Regions from separate parts of the Homo sapiens genome. Here all the other regions are linked to region 1. Evidence: fine-mapped expression QTL. A gene starts in region 1. Each other region holds a variant in brackets. All regions are shown on one strand. Distances are between the middles of the regions.

The links. PIP is the estimated chance that this variant, and not a neighbour inherited with it, causes the effect.
Region 2: its variant is fine-mapped to the expression of ARHGEF10L in whole blood (TOPMed, PIP above 0.99). The same link has a PIP of 0.9 or more in blood mononuclear cells.
Region 3: its variant is fine-mapped to the expression of ARHGEF10L in whole blood (TOPMed, PIP 0.97).
Region 4: its variant is fine-mapped to the expression of ARHGEF10L in whole blood (INTERVAL, PIP 0.95).

What each region holds. Positions count from the first base shown.
Region 1 is chr1:17,538,404-17,541,080 of GRCh38, forward strand. It overlaps ARHGEF10L (Rho guanine nucleotide exchange factor 10 like), which reads left to right and starts at 1,295. Exons shown (of 29, transcript NM_018125.4): 1 at 1,295-1,547.
Region 2 is chr1:17,628,638-17,631,314 of GRCh38, forward strand. All of the region lies in intron 15 of ARHGEF10L (Rho guanine nucleotide exchange factor 10 like), which reads left to right. Among named protein-coding and RNA genes, the nearest start is that of LINC02810, 88 kb to the right of the region's middle. RefSeq lists enhancers at 853-1,506, 1,507-2,158. The variant G/A (reference allele first, on the strand shown) is at 1,643.
Region 3 is chr1:17,623,758-17,626,434 of GRCh38, forward strand. ARHGEF10L (Rho guanine nucleotide exchange factor 10 like) reads left to right here. Exons shown (of 29, transcript NM_018125.4): 13 at 630-746; 14 at 2,199-2,291. Among named protein-coding and RNA genes, the nearest start is that of ARHGEF10L, 85 kb to the left of the region's middle. The variant G/A (reference allele first, on the strand shown) is at 1,429.
Region 4 is chr1:17,598,966-17,601,642 of GRCh38, forward strand. The region is part of intron 4 of ARHGEF10L (Rho guanine nucleotide exchange factor 10 like); the gene reads left to right. Among named protein-coding and RNA genes, the nearest start is that of ARHGEF10L, 61 kb to the left of the region's middle. The variant G/A (reference allele first, on the strand shown) is at 1,031.

The DNA.
Region 1 (2,677 bases):
TCTCCTGCCTACTTAAACTATGAGCCAGTGTTGCCCTAGCCTGGGGCTCAGGACAACTCTGTGGTGCTTATGTTCTTGTGTCGAGAGGGACAATAAACAAACCAACAAGTCGGTGAATAAGATGATTTCAGTGCGTGGCCTGTGTGGCTTGTCTCACTGCACTGTAGCCGTTTGTTTATTTGCGTCTTCTCCTAAGCCTATGAGCTCCGAGGGGGCGGGGCTGGGGTCTGTCTGGTTCTTTGTCTCACTGGTAGCCCCTGAGGCTGGTGCCTGACAAATAGGGAGTAGTTAAAAAAAAAAAAAAAAAAAAGTTTTTGCTGGCTGTGGGCTGTAAGGAACACAAGCTGAAAATGATTTCAACCTACGTGCACCTGTACCCTTTGGAGGCTGCAGAACTTATCATTATCAACCCAGGAGTAATTGCTGATAAGCCCGCGTGTGAATTTCCTTGCAAATAGAGGGGTAGCGGGGGAGTGTTTAACAACAACGCGGATAATCTTAATTAATGACCTGATAACTGTAATTAATTGCATCATATCCAGAGGCCCTCTTTGGAATTTCAGGAGGGAGTACCTAGTGTTTGGCAGCTTTGGAGCTGCAAAGGCAGGGGAATGCTAGGATCTCAGTCTCAGCACTTTGCTGCTCAGTGAGCTTTGCCAAGTTACTCTCAGTTCTGAGCCTCAGTTTTCTCCTAGGGAAAATGGGGCTACATCACTGGGGTGTTGCCGGTCTCAAAGCCGTCAATGCCTGAACCCGCCAGGGTTGTTCTTGGAGGTTTGGCTGCATGGCTGCAAGGTTCCCCATGTTGCCATGGCGGGGGTGGGGGGCAATACGGGGCCGCCAAGACTGGTTGAGGGGCAGGTCATAAGTCTAGGGTTTCCCCTGGGGCCGGTCCAGGATTCTCACCCTTTTGGGGGAACCTCAGGGCAAAATGTTGAAGTGGGGGAGGAGAAGCCAGCACCCTGCGCGCCTGCGGGGTCTCCCCGCGGAGAACCGGGGAAGGAGAACCGGGAGGCGGGAAGTGGGGACCCCGGGGTAGGTGAAGGAGCGAGGAGGTCGCCGTGTGGCCGGGGCCGGGCCCCATCCCCGCGGGCCTCAGTTTCCCCCCTGTACTGTGGGGGGCCGGTGGGCTGCCGGGACCGCTGGGGGCTCGCAGCGGGTCGGGGGAGGCCACGTCTCCCTCGCGGCGCGCTGGGAGCAGGGAGGGGGCGCGGCGGCCGCTGCCCCGGCCACCAGGGGTTAAGCGGTGACCTCAGCCGCGGCGCCCCGGGACCGGGCGGGCGGGGGCGGCGCCGCGTCGCGCACGGCGGCGGCGGCGGGACCAGGCCTCGGAGCGCGGCGGGCGCGGGCGCAGTCCCGGCGGGCCCGGACCTCGCGGGCGGGCGGGCGGCGCGGCCATTGGCTCGGGTGGCGGCGGCTGCGGCGGTGGGGGCGCCGTCCCGGCCATGGGCGCCCGCGGCGGCCTGCGGAGCTGGAGGCGCGGCGCCGGCCGCCAGGCGCCTTTGTGAGCGGCGCGGACGACAAAGGCGCGGGCCCGGGCAGCCGAGGTGGGTGAGTGAGCGCGGGGGCCCTGCCTCCGCGGGATCCTCGCGTGTGCCGGAGTCTGCGAGTGCGCGGGAGGCGCTCCAGGCGCCAGGGTCCTCCGGGTGTCCTGGGCGTGTCGCCGTGGGCGGGCGGGGGCCGTGTCCGCCGCTGTGTCCCTGTGTCTGGGTGTGAGAGCCCCGAGCCCGCGTCTCCCCTCTGTGTGGGTCTCTCCTTGTGTCACTGGAGTTCTGGTGTTACTAGGGCGAGTGGCCTTTGTGCTTCAGCTTGTGTGTGTGTGTGGCCTCCAGCCGGCTGGAGTCAGGACAGTTTGGGAACCCCCACCCCCACCCTGTGCCTCACTTTCCCCTGTGGTCCACTTCTTCCTGCGCTGACCTTGGGGGTCCCTGGGATCGGGTGAAGTCAGGGAGTGCCCCTGTCGCCTCTGTGGTGAGTCAGCCTCTCCCACCCTGGACCCCCGCCCAGAGGCGGAACGGGACGGCCTCCTGCAGGAGGAGACTGTGGGAGGAGAGGATGCCGGGTCAGCCGGAGGCCGTGGCTGCGGAGCCGCCAGTCCCGGATCCTCCCTGGAACAGGGATATATGTCAGGGAGGGCCCTAGATGAAGACCAGCCCCCCTGGAGTCGCTGGGATGGCCTCCGAGAGGGAGAGCAGGCCTGACTGTAGGGGGCATGGGGACAATTCTTCCTCCCTCTGCCAAAGCGGGGCCCTGGGGCGGGGGTCTCGAATCTTCCTTTGGCCCTGAAAGCCAGGAGGCCCTGCGTTGCATCAGTGCCAAGTAGAGAGGTGGTGGCTGGTGGGCTGCACTTTCCCACTGGCTTTGGAGCTCAGTTTCTGCCCCAGAGTCCTTGGCCTCCCTTAAGGATGCTACTGGGAAGCCACGCCCCACCTGCCGGGAGCCCCATCTGCTCCTCCTCGGGTTCTGGGGAGAGAGGGCAGGTTGTGCGGGCTCATTAGAATGCATAGCTCTTCCCAGCATCCGCCCAGCACTGTGCCCCCCACGGTGTTCAGGCCCTGGACACACAGACTAGAAAGCAGGTCAGCCTCCGGAAATCTCCAAGCTCCCTGTGACTGTGGGCTGGGGACTGCCCTTCCCCTTCATCGGGCCCTCAGGCTGAAGCTCAGAACCCTCCTGT
Region 2 (2,677 bases), 90 kb after region 1:
GAGGTTCAAATTTTCTGGGGAATAAACTGGGAGCCTCTTGGCTCTGTGGGGTCCTAGAAGCAGAACTAAGGCCTATGGCTGGCTGTTCCCAGGAGGGAGGTTTCAGCAGCACGGGGTAGACCTTTCTAAGAGTCCAGGAAGGAGTACCCAGAGGGAGAGTGGCCCTTTCCATGTGTGCTGCACTTTACAGTATAGAATGCTGTCTAACCTGCATCAGCATCTTTGCTTTCCACCCCATGCCTGTGAAGTGGGGCAGGGACAAGGCCTCCTGTAGGGTCCCCTGCAGTGCCAAGCTTCAGGCAACCCACATCTTAGGACTCTGTTGCTTCAGGCCAAATTCAGGTTGCAGGTTGTGTTGTGGCCCACACAGTATTTTATTCTATTTAATTTAATTTTATTTTGAGACAGGGCCTCATGCTGTTGCCCAGGCTGGAGTACAGTGGTACAATAACGGCTCACTGCAGCCTTGAGCTCCTGGGCTCAAGTGAGCCTCCTGCCTCAGCCTCTTGAGTAGCTGGGACTACAAGCACGAGCTACCACACCCAGCTAATTAATTTTTTTTTTTTTTTTGTAGAGATGGGGTCTCACTATGATGCCCAGGCTGGTCTCAAACTCCTGGGATCAAGTGATCCTCCTGCCTCAGCCTCCCAAAGTGTTGGGATCACAGGCATGAGCCACGGTGCCCGGCCCACACAGTAGTTTTAAGAACATGGCAGTAGTTGCCAACATTTAAAAATTGAGAGAGATCCTATAAAATTCAGACTTGTGGGTCTCCTGGGAGGGTAGGAAGAGCTGGCTCACCGACCCACCTTCCCACGTGGCACCAGCCCCCGAGTGGCAGCTGCCCACTTCCCCTTGGTTCCTACCCACCTTTCCCACTGATGTTACCTGCAAGCCCCTAAGGCATCTGAGTTTATTTTACCTGCTCCAGGAGGATTGGGCTGGGGAAGACGAGATGGGGAGGGGACAGCGCCCTCTCCTGGGGATGTCCCCATCCACGTGGCTCAGGTTGGGCATGAGGGGCAGGGTCACTCTCCACCCCCTGGTTCCAGGCAGGACTAACTCAGCCATCCCCCACACAAGCCTCGAGTTTGGAATGTCTCGGGAGAAAAAGCCTTCAGCCCCGCCATGACCACCCGTGCTGGCCTTTGCGCTCAGGAATCTTCTCCTCTCCCCACCTTCGGCTCCCTCTTCGGTGACCAAGAGGCTTTCTCTTGCTTTGCCTCATACACCTGTGCAGCCACAGTGGGGAGAGGCCTCTTGGGAGGAGGAAATAAATTCCGTAGTGGTTGGGAAGAGCCGTTCTGCCCTCTCCTGCTCTGTGAGGTGGGCCCTGGCTGGAGGTAAGGGAGACCTCTTTGATGCTGGGCAAAGGACTAGAGGCTCTAAGCTTCCATGTCTCCATTTGCTGGGTGAGGGTAGGTTGGACCATGTGAGATGTTAGGAAGAGTGTGGTGGAGGCCGCACCCTGGGCTTCCCCCTCCAGGGCCCTCCCTGGACAGTCCTGGCCAGTTCTGTGACCTGTTTAGTGATGTCCCTATCACCATCACCCAGGGAGAAGCAGAAACGAAACTGGGTGTAACCCGAAACGGAACCATGCCAGCTGTTTCAAAATAGCCTAGGCAGGAGCCTCCAGAGGGCC[G/A]TTTGTGCAATATCCTGGTTTTCTTTTTCTTTTTGTTGGTTTTCATCTGCCAAGGGGGCAGCGCTGACTGCCAGAGCCCACGGGACTTTCCTCTTCCAAGTTTTGGGTCATGGCACATTTGGCAGCCCTTGGGGCGGGGGGCCCTGCTGTCTTCAAGGTCCGAGTAGTGGTCTCTTGAGTTGGCGTTTGGTTTCCTTGTGGAAATAGTGAGGCGGAGCCTGGCCTTAGCAGCTGTGGGGGACCCCAAGTCCTCCTGCATGTTAGGAGCGGTGGGGCCTCCCCTGGCTCCTGTCACACTGTGCACTAGCTGCTCAATGCAGGGAATGGTGAACGTGGCCTGGCTCTGTCCTGTGCTGTCAATCAACAGTGGGTGGGTCTCAGCGAGTCACTTTACCCCTGGAATCTCAGTTTCCTCACCTGGGCAATGGGGATGGCCTCAAGGACCGCTGAGCTGATTCAATGAGATGTGGAATATTAAGAGCCATCCTCAGTGCCTGGCACACCCTGGGCATTTGGTCCCACTGGGACTTTTGGTTGTGTGCCGACTTGAGAGAGATGATGCTTTGGAGAACAACAGCATTCTCTCCCGAGGAGGCTCGGGGTGATCTGTCCTTTTCTCTCCTGGGGATGCCTGGGGGTGATCTGTGTTTTTCTCTCTGGGGAGGCTCAGGGTGTTCTGTCCTTTTCTCTCCTGGGGATGCTCGGGGTGATCTGTCCTTTTCTGTCCTGGGGATGCCCGGGGGTGATCTATCTTTTTCTCTCTGGGGAGGCTCAGAGTGATCTGTCCTTTTCTGTCCTGGGGTTGCCTGGGGGTGATCTGTCTTTTTCTCTTTGGGGAGGCTCAGGGTGATCTGTCCTTTTATGTCCCGGGGAGGCTCGGGGTGATCTGTCCTTTTCCCAGACAGGATGGGGAAGGAAGGGGAGAGTAATGGTTGTCGTCAGAGTCACGGGTTTTGGGAATGAATTTTGCTGAATATCCTCCCTCCCTCCCAGAAAAAAATCCCCTTTAGAAAAAAGACGTTTTCCCAGGGTGTC
Region 3 (2,677 bases), 85 kb after region 1:
GAAGGTCAAGTTGGTAGCACTCTACTTTGATGTGTTTTAGGTAACTAGGTTTTGCTAAAAGAAAAAAACTTTTTTTTGAAAGCCACAGCGCTCGATAGAGTCACTGAATAGGTCTGATGTTCTGGGTGTATATCAAGGGGCTCTGGAGAGAGAGTTGATTGACTCCAGGCCGACCATCCCTCCCTTGGTAACTCAACTCTGGGCACGCTGCCCGGTGAGAGGCCAGGAGCACTTTCCTTAAAGGTGGAGGGCAAGGGGCATTCGATTTCCTGAACGTGAATGCAGTAGAAGGGGTGTTCCCCCTGCCCTTCTCCTCCCTCCACCTGTGGGCTTGGGCTGCTGCACTGGGGATGGAGACCTGGGAGGCGAAGGTCCCCTGGGCTCTCCTGTGGCACCACCCCATCCCACCTGTGACCTCAGGCCAGCCTCTCTACCTCTCTGAGCTCCATGTCCACACCCCAGTGGGGGTGATGGATTTGCACAGCTCGAGGTCCCAAGGGAGTGTGGGGTGAGTGCAGGCGCCCTTCTGCTCCCTGCCTTGAGGCGGCCTCCCTGGCCCACACCTGCCTCGTTTCCTTCTGCTCCCTGCATTGAGGCGGTCTCCCTGGCCCACACCTGCCTTGTTTCAGTTTTCCAAGTCCATGGTGCTAGATGTGTACAGTGACTACGTGAACAACTTCACCAGTGCCATGTCCATCATCAAGAAGGCCTGCCTCACCAAGCCTGCCTTCCTCGAGTTCCTCAAGGTGGGCCTCCATGGTGGTACCGTGCCTGGTCAGGGTGGGCAGGGAGATTGCTCAGGAGGAAGGGAGCATTTTGGCCCCAGCTTTGGGTATGACATCATAGCTTTGGCCTGGACAGCTCCCCTCTTTCTTTTGGGGCAGCCCAGTCCCATGGGAAGAAAATCGTTCCCTCCTGCCCCTGGGAGGAGCGTAGCCAAGTGTCTGTAAGCAACTGGGATCCTGGAGCTTTGGCAGGGTGGAGGGAAGACCTGTGTCATCTTGCTGACCCTTTGCCTCCTGTGCCCTGGTGAGTGGGTGGGTCTGCCTGGCTGGCCCTGTGGTGGGCTGTGGCTCCCGGGTTGCTAAGCTGGTTCCTTTTCCTCATTTATAAAAGGGTGAGGAAATTCCTTATAGGGGTATCTTGGGCATTGCTTGGGAGAGTAAAGGTTAAAGGCTTCGAAAAGCTTCTGAGTTCTCATGTGCCCAGCCTCTGCTGATTTCTTTGGGAGTGTAGTCTGGTGAGTCAGAGCCCCTGCCTGTAGGGAGCCTGCTGGCTGGCAGAGGATGCAACTGGGCTAGGTGCCAGGACACGCACACATGTGCCGGCAGCACAGGTTAGATGCCACGGCCTCAGTGGAGGAACCCACTGTCCCCATCAAAGAGAACAGGGGATCAGGAGGAGCCACCATCTGACATGGGCCCTGGC[G/A]GGGGATGGTGGGATTGTGCCAAATAAAGACAGAGGAGAGCCTATATCAGGTGTAAGGATAGTGGAGCAAAGGTTAGAGGCAGGAGGAGAGGGATGGGCAGGTCTGTTTGGATTCTGGGAGCACTGATGCCTGTTGGGGAGTCCCAGGAGAGAAGGCCTGAGTGTGCACACTAAGAGGCGGCTGAGTTCAGTTGGGTGGTTCTAGACCTCCAGGCCCAGGGCCTAGGATGTAATATTTCAGGTAATGGGGAGCCATTGAAGGATTTTGAGCTAGGGTAGATGGAAGTGGAGGCAGGTGGAGAAACTGTGGGATTGCAGCATATGGGGGCCAGGACCAGGTAACAGGTGTGTGGATGGAGTGGGGGATGGATGCAAGAGACAGGACAGAAGGTCCCCCTGTGCCCCGCCCCTTACCCTAGCCCAAATCTGTCTGCATTTAGTTTAAGTGGAGGGAATGGTTGCCTTGGCCACTTCTAGAAGTCTGACATCTTGAATAAATTGCTGAGTTTCCCAGTTATGCCTTTAGTTCAGAGACCTTAAGATGACTGCTTTAGTCTCCTGAGGGTGCGCGGCCATGCAGGGGCACTGGTGGGAGAGGGATCCCTGGCTGCAGAACCACGGACCTCTCTCAGCTCTTCTTGCAAGCCCAGGGATAGGCAGGGTCTTAGGGCCTGGGGAGAGGAGCCCAGAATGGGGACAGTGTCTGGACTCTGGGGCACTGGGCCCTCTCTGCAGGGGGTCAGCGAATGACGGAACCTTGTCTCCACCAGCGACGGCAGGTGTGCAGCCCAGACCGTGTCACCCTCTACGGGCTGATGGTCAAGCCCATCCAGAGGTTCCCACAGTTCATACTCCTGCTTCAGGTACTGCTCAGGATTCCAGCAGCTTCAACCCACAGGGTTTGCCTGTGGGCTGGGAGGTGCCTCCTGGGGTAGGAGGGAGGAGGTCTGGGCTCTTGTCCGTGATCCATAACCCACCCAACCTGCTGTGGGACTCTGGCCTCATCTTTCTCCACTTCTAGAGTGAAATTGATTGTAACTGACAGCTCAGTTTGCACGCCCCTCTGTGGGGGACGCTGAGGGACTGCTGGTGGCCTGAGTCTGGGTTGCAGGAAGGGAGTGAAGGCACAGGGAATCCCGGGACCCGCAGGGCTCCTGGCATGGAGGAGATGCTCAGTAAACATGCTGAGCTTGGCCATTTCAGATTCGAGCTTCAGAACAGGGGATTCCTAAGGGACATTAGCCCCACA
Region 4 (2,677 bases), 61 kb after region 1:
TGGGTAATTGAAACTTTGTGAGGCTCAGTTTCCCCACCTGTAGAATAGGGGTAACAACACCTGCCTCCGGTGTGTTCCTGCAAAATTAAATGTGCAGGTCGGGCTTGTAGGCTCACTCCCAGCACTTTGGGAGGCCAAGGTGGGCAGATCACCTGAGGTCAGGAGTTCGAGACCAGCCTGGCCAACGTGGCGAAACCCCATCTCTACTAAAAATACAAAAATTAGGTGGGCATAGTGGCGCGTGCCTGTAGTCCCATCTACTTGGAAGGCTAAGATGGGAGAATTGCTTAAATCCAGGAGGTAGAGGTTGCAGTGAGCTGAGATCGTGCTGCTGCACTCCAGCCTGGGTGACCAAGTGAGACTGTCAAAAAAAAAAAAAGAAAAAGAAAAAAAAAACGTGCAATTACATGTAAAGCAGAGCAAGCAGTGCATGGCGGATGCTTTGTCACGGTCACTGTCATGGCCACATATCAGAGCAAAGAGGACCTGTGGCCGGGAGACTGTCCAGCCAACCTCTTCTAAGCTCACGTCTGTTCCAGCCGGAAGAGTTTGGTTCTGTCTGAGCAATTCCGAGCAACTGATGTGGCGCCTTCAGGATGTTTCTGTGTTGAGGAGGTGGCGGCTCAGCGAAGCAGCTGTTAGAAATCGGGGTTCAGGTGGCTCCCATCAGCCCATCACCCACCTTCCTGGTCCAGAGAAGCCCTGTCCTCTCTTGGCCTTTACTTCCTGTCATTGGTGGAAAGTGTCTCCCCAGGACCAAATGTGCTGCCTTCCTTGCCCTGGGGTGACACTGTTGACTTCTGGCAGTGAAATGTGAGCTGACACTTGCTCCTCTAATAGGGCAGGTGACTTAGACCTGCACCACCCAGTCCAGTGGCCACTAGTCATGTGTAGCTATTTAAAATTAAATTACTTGAAATCAAATAGAGTTAAAAATTAAGTTCCTTAGTCCCACTAGCCACATGTCAAGTGCTCAATAGCCACGTGGCTGGTGGCTGCTGCACCGGATAGGACAGGCAGGAGCATTCTC[G/A]CCACCACCACCGCTCTGCTTATTATCTGAGAGGCAGTGGAGGGTGGCACTCAGAGCCCAGCTTGGGAGCTAGACAAGCTGGCCTCATGGTCTGGCCCTGCCACTCCCTGGCAGAGTGATCTTGGGCAGGTTCTTCTACTTCCCTGCAGAATGCAGAAGATGCCAGGATCCTGTGTGGTGCTGGGAAGGTGAGGCAGAGGGCCTGGCTCACAGGAGGTGCTCAACAGCAGAGATCCCTCCTCGCAGCCTCCTCCCCTCCCTCTTCCCCTGCCCTGTCCTACTCTTCATCTGCTACAGGCTCGGGTGCCAGGAAGGGAAGTTCAAGTTGATTCTTTGGCAACGGTGCTGTTCTCTTGACAGTCTAAGGCCTCTGCCCTCTAGGTTGGCATAAGTGGTCTTTGGTCTTTGTTTTGTTTTTTTGAACCTGGACTTCAAAAAAATTCACGTTAGAATAGCTTTAGATTTTCAGAGATGTTCTGAAGAGGGAACATAGAGCTCCACATACCCCTCATCCAGCTTCCCTGCTATGAGCATCTCACATGGCCTTGGCACAGTTGTCAAAGCTGAGACCTACGTTGGCACATTACCATTCACTAAACAGATTTTGTGTGGATTTCATCAGTTTTCCTACTTATGTTTATTTTTTGACCCAGGATCCAATCTGGGATCCCACGTTGCGCTTAACTGTCATGTCTCTGTAGCCTGCTCCAGCCCGTGGCAGTTTCTCAGTCTTTCCTTGATTTCCAAGACCTTGAGAATATTGAGGAGTGATGTTTAGGTGCGGTGACTCACTCCTGTAATCCCAGCACTTTGGGAGGCTGAGGTGGGTGGATCACTTGAGTTCAGGAGTTTGAGACCAACCTGGCCAACATGGTGAAACCCCATCTCTACCAAAAGTGCAAAAATTAGCTGGGTGTGGTGGCGCATGCCTGTAATTCCAGCTACTTGGGAGACTGAGGTGGGAGGATTGCTTGAACCCGGGAGGCAGAGGTTGCAGTGAGCCGAGATCGCACCACCGCCCTGAAGCCTGGGCGACAGAGCGAGGCTCTGTCTCAAAAAAAAAAAAAAAAAAACAAAAAACAAAAAACTCTAAAAAAACAAAAAGAGTCTTGAGGAGTAATGCCAGGTATTCGGTACAATGTTCCCCACTCCGATTTTGTCTGGTGTCTTCTCTGTGATTAGACTGGGGTTATGCGTTTTGGATAAAAACACCATGGAGGTGAAGTACCCATTTCATGACGTCTTATCAGGACACATGGCACCTGCGTGGCGTCTCTACAGATGCTCACCTGGGTCTCTTGGTTCGGGACGTGTCTGCTGGGCTCCTCTGCTGTTTCCCATTTGCATGTCTGCTCTGTGGAAGGGACTCACTGGGCCAGCCCATCCTCAAGTGTGCATGAGGGACTAAGCTCTACCTCCCACTTACAGTCTTTTGAAGCTTTGCAAGTCTTGTTTCTTTTTCCTTTTTTTGATGGAGTGTTGTTTTGTCATCCAGGCTGGAGTGTAGTGGCATGATCTTGGGTCACTGCAACCTTCCTCTTCTGGGTTCAAGTGATTCTTGTGCACCAGCCTCCTGAGTAGCTGGGGCTACAGGCATGCACCACCACGCCTGGCTAATTTTTGTATTTTTAGTAGAGACGGAGTTCC